Regions from separate parts of the Homo sapiens genome. Here region 2 is linked to region 1. Evidence: fine-mapped expression QTL. Tissue or cell type: whole blood. Region 1 holds a variant in brackets; the other region holds the start of a gene. All regions are shown on one strand. Distances are from middle to middle.

The links. PIP is the estimated chance that this variant, and not a neighbour inherited with it, causes the effect.
Region 2: it holds the start of SPATA13, and the variant in region 1 is fine-mapped to the expression of SPATA13 in whole blood (INTERVAL, PIP 0.97).

The regions. Positions count from the first base shown.
Region 1 is chr13:24,234,988-24,237,676 of GRCh38, forward strand. All of the region lies in intron 2 of SPATA13 (spermatogenesis associated 13), which reads left to right. Among named protein-coding and RNA genes, the nearest start is that of SPATA13-AS1, 18 kb to the right of the region's middle. The variant T/G (reference allele first, on the strand shown) is at 1,223.
Region 2 is chr13:24,159,150-24,161,838 of GRCh38, forward strand. SPATA13 (spermatogenesis associated 13) reads left to right here and starts at 1,571. Exons shown (of 13, transcript NM_001166271.3): 1 at 1,571-1,783. RefSeq lists a silencer at 1,462-1,521.

The DNA of each region.
Region 1 (2,689 bases):
TGCCTGAATTAAATGAAATAATGCATGTATGGTACTTACCACAGTGCCTTGGAACATGGTAAATCGGGTTAATAGTAGCTTTTATAACAGAAATCATTGTTATGATTGAAATTATTTCCTTTGGTCAAACATTTCAGTACAGACCAGTTAAACTTTGCAAATTATGTACTTCTAAGTTATAGCCGGAGCAAAGACCTCGCCCTGAGTTACAAACCAAAGCTACAGATTCCTGAACCTCACCCAAAGCTACTGAATTAGAGTCCCTGAGGTTTAGACCCAGAAATTTGGACTATCAGCAATCAACTCGGGAAAATGACTTTTGTCAATGCAAACTTTGAGATTCGCTGTCCAGGCTGAGGCTCCTCTAGGTATAAAGTGTCCTGTACTTCTCCAGAATAGAGTGATTGAAGCCAGGGAGGCATGCCGGAAAGAGAGAAAGATTGCTTGTAAAAACTTTTCAAGCAAGAAATGGTGTGATAAAGAATTGGTCTGGCTGACGTGGTGGCTCATGCCTATAATCCCAGCACTTTGGGAGGTCAAGGCTGGAGGACCACTTGAGCTCAGGAGCTCGAGACCAGCCTGGACAGCATAGTGAGACCTTGTCTCTTAAAAAAAAATAAAAAGCCAGGTGTGGTGGTGCAAGCCTGTGGCCCCAGCTACTTAGGAAGCCAAGGTGGGAGGATTGCTGGAGCCTAGGAGATCGAGGCCACAGTGAGTTATGATTGCACCACTTCACTTCAGCCTGGCTGACAGAGTGAAACCCTGTCTTAAATAAAATAAAGAATTTGGTCTAAAATATGTTGAGCAGTGTAAGTCTAGCAATTGCTCCATCCACTACTGAGAACTAGAATTTTTACCAACTCATTTGGGATTTTAAAAAAGTAACTGTTTCTTGAAAATAAGAATATAAATAATAACAGCTCAAATTGATATGCCTTTTCAGTGGATGAAGTTCCATCATGCAACACTGTTGCATTCAGTTTTCACAGCCACTTGTGACATAGGTGATTTTTGTATTTGCTTTAACAGATGAGTAAACTGAGGCTTGGAAAAGTTCAAGGACTGTCACATAAGTAGTGAGGGGTGGGGTCGGGCCTGCAGCTGGGTTTCCAAATGGGGAAGGAGGCCTAGAATCAGCATCTGCTTTGGGATGTGGCTTGCAGACATGCTCACCATTTATTAGCCTCCTCATCTCTTGAGGAATCACTTAATCTTTCTTATC[T/G]GTAAAGTAGAATTAAATGCATCTACTTCAGAGAGTTTTTAAATTAAATGACATAAATGATATCTTCAACAACAACAAAAAACACAGCCCCATTTAAAAAATGGGCAGAGGACTTGAATAGACATTTCTCTAAAGAAGATATGCAGGTGAGCGGGTGGATCACCTGAGGTCAAGAGTTTGAGACCAGCCTGGACAACATGGTGAAACCTTGTCTCTACTAAAAATATAAAAAAAAATTAGCTGGGCGTGGTGGCACGCACCTGTAGTCCCAGCTACTCGGGGAGGCTGAGGCAGGAGAATCACTTGAACCCAGGCGGCGGAGGTTGCAGTGAGCCAATATTGCGCCACTGCACTCCAGCCTGGGTGACAGAGGGAGACTCCATCTCAAAAAAAAAAAAAAAAAAAGATATGCAAATGATAAAGTATATGAAAACATCTTCAGTGTCACTAATCATTAGGGAAATGCAAATTAAAACCATGGTGAGATACTACTTCACACCCATTAGAATGGCTACTATAAAAAAAATAACAAGTGTTCACAAAGATAGGGAGACATTGGAACCCTTGTGCATTGCTGGTGGGAAAATAAAATGATGGTACGGCTGCTGTGAAAAACAGTGTGCTGATTCCTCCAAAGTTAAACATAGAATTACTGTATGATCCAGCAATTCCGTTTCTGGGTATATGTCCAAAAGAATTGAAAACAGGACTCAAACAGGTATTTAGACACCCATGTTCATAGCAGCACTATTCATAAGAGGCAAAAGAAGGAAACAACCCAAGTGTCTGTTGATGGACAAATGGATAAAAAGTATAGTGTGTACATATACTGCGGAATATTATTTATGCCTTAACAAACATGCTGCAGGCTGGGCGCAGGGCTCACGTCTGTAATCCCAGCACTTTCTGAGGCCGAGGTGGGTGAATCATGAGGTCAGGAGTTCGAGACCAGCCTGGCCAACATGGTGAAACCCCATCTCTACTAAAAATACAAAAAATTAGTTGGGCATAATGGTGGGTGCCTGTAGTCCCAGCTACTCAGGAGGTGGAGGCTGAGGCAGGAGAATCTCTTGAACCCAGGGGGTGGAGGTTGCAGTGAGCCGAGATTGCACCACTGCACTCCAATGCTGGCGGCAGAGTCAGATTCCATCTTAAAACAAAACAAAACAAAAAAAACATGCTGCAGCATGGCTGAACCTTGAGGACATTGTGCTAAGTGAAATCAGCCAGTTACAAAAGAATAAATACTGTATGATTCCACTCACATGAGATCCGTAGAGTAGTCAAATTCATAGAGACAGAAAGTAGAGTAGTCATTGCCAGGGGCTGTGGGGGAAGAGAGTATTTAATGGGTTCAGAGATACATTTGGGAGAGATGAAAAAGTTCTGAAGATGGATGGTGGTGATAATTACATAACAGTGTGAATGTACTTAATCCCACTGACTCATACACCTAAAAATAATTAA
Region 2 (2,689 bases), 76 kb before region 1:
TAACATAGATTTCATTTTAGCATTTGTGAGTGCTTTGTGCAGATTTTTTATAGAGTAGAAATAAAATGGAACAGTCAATGATATTAGCCTCACATACTATGTTTCTAAAATTTTCCAAGGTTTGGTTTTTATATTTTTTCAGCTTTAAAAATACATGGTCATTGTTAAAACTTGGGGTAATTTCAATAACAATTCAAAGAATTAAATAAAATTTGCCCATATTTCCACCACCCACAGATAATTATCATTAATCTTGGAGTGTGCTTTAATTAATAGACTATTTTTAGAGCAGTTTTAGGTTTAGAAAACAGGAATGGAAAGTACACGGAGTTCTGATGTACTCCCTCACGCCCCTCCCTCCACACACAGCTGCTTGTACTGACATCTTACATTCGAGTGGCACATGTGTTATGATTGATGGGCCCATGTTGTTACATTAAGATGAACTAAGTCCATTACTTACAGGAGGCTCACGCCGCATGCTGTTCATTCTGTGAGTTTTGAGAAATGCATAATGACATGAAGCCACCATTATAATGTCATACAGAGTTTTTTCAATATTTTAAAAAACATACATAAAATTAATTTTCACTTTTCATTGGGTAATATAATTTTTGTTTTTTATTTTACAGATTGTGGGTATTGTTCTTTGATTATAAAAGACAATAGACATTTATAAATAATAGTGCTGGCCACTAAATGAATCATCTAAAAAACTACACTGGTAGAAAGCATGCATTTATTTTATGAATTCCATTAGCTGCCTATCAGGGAACATGGAGCACTGGGGCACAGATCCCAGCACAGAAGGGTTTGCTTCTCTTCTGTGGTTTTCATGTCAATTAATGATTAGGCCTTGAGCCTCACAAGAAAGGTGATAGGCCTTTGAGTCGGTTTACTGCAACAGTCTACTCAAGACTTGCCCCAGGCCCTGGGAAACATGTAGGTTTAAAAATCCCTACCCTGCGTTTTCCTTTCACAGGGAGTGAACTTCTGGCCCAGGCAGTGGGCAGTGGGGCACGGTTGCCCCGGAGATGAGACTCCTCTTCCCGCCCTGGGGGGTGGGGGCTGGCTGGTGGCTGAGGGAACTATTTTTGTTTGTTTCTTTTTTTAAAAAACGGAGTCTGGCTGTGTCCTCCAGGTTGGAGTGCAGTGGCGCGATCTCGGCACACTGCAACCTCCGCCTCTCGGGTTCAAGTGATTCTCCTGCCTTAGCCTCCTGAGTAGCTGGGATCACAGGCGCCTGTCACCACGCCCGGTTAATTTTTATTTTTATTAGAGACGGGGTTTCACCATGTTGGCCAAGCTGCTCTCAAATTCCTGACCTCAGGTGATCCGCCCACCTCGGCCTCCAAAAGTGCTAGGATTACAGGCAAGAGCCACTGCGCCTGGCCGGGGAACTGTTTTTGATGGGTGGGGTCCCCGGCTGTGGTTGGTAGTGTGGGGGCGTGGCCGAGGGTGTGGCCTGAGGGAGTGAGCTAACCGGGGGCGTGGCCTGATATGGGGCGGGGGGAAGAGCCGGGCTGGGGGCGTGGCCTGGTGGGGAGCGGGGCTGGGGCGTGGCTTGGCTGAGTGTGCTGCCGCGGCGCGGGAGGAGAGTGTGCGTTGCGCTTTCTCCCGCGATCGCCCTGCCGGTCGCTAGCTCCGAGGGCGCGCACTGGATCCCAGGCTCCTCCGAGAGTGCGGCGACCTCGGGGCTCCGCCGGCACCGGAGGTGGCTCTGAGGGCAGGGACGTGTTGGACACGCTGACTTTGTAGGCTCCGCCAAGAGGCGCCGCAGGAGGTAAGACGGCTTCGGGCGCGCGGCTCTGCCGGGCGGGCGCGGGCATGGGCTGTTAGGTAGAATATCGGGAGGATTTGAGTCCCAGTGGACTGCCTCGGGGCTTCGGGATGTCCAGCTCCCAGCTGCTTGGCCTCTGCTTCCCCCGCCGGTGGAGGCTACCGGGTGCTCACCTGTTAGGTCCGTGCGCCCGCTCCCTGCCCGGCGGTGGCTCTGCGCCCTCTGGGCCACCCGGCACCATCGCTTTTGGGAGGACATGCACGTGGTGTTCTCGCAAAAGGCCGTTTCCAGCCGGAAGCCTGCAGGGAGGTCGCCTTGTAACTTCACCCGCGCTCCCAGCTCGCGGGGCCTGGCCTACAGGGGCGGCCGTGGGGGTGGCAGAGTCTGGGGAGCCTGGCGCGGCGGAGCCCTGTAACGCTCTGCTCCATCGGGTGGCGTGGCTGGTGCCTCCGGGGACCCGGAGCGATGCGGTTGGAGAGCTTAGTTTAGAAAGCAAGTTTCTCTTGGTACCAGCGGAGTCTCGTCCCAGGGGAAAGATTTTGGGACCCGGTGCCCATCGTCTGTGGACTGCAGGGAATGCATTGGCGGAGTTGGTTTGGTCCCATTCTGTGCAGGAGGTGGGGGAATTGGTACTCCAGCCCCAGGCAGGTAGAAGCCCGCGCTGCTGCCAGCGTCAGGGGGAGCTCGGGTGACTTGGGCTGGGCCACCCATCTGACTGCAAGGTTACAGAGCTTGAGCAAATTTCCCCTCCCTCCAAGTGCAGGAAAACCAAACCAAAGCAAGCAAACAAAACCCTGTGGGTCATTTGCTTCCCAGCATTGCATAGGGATGTGGATAAATAGAATAATACTGTGAATTTATTCAGCTCTTGTTCCCATGGCTTCCCATAGCCTTATATTATGCACCTCC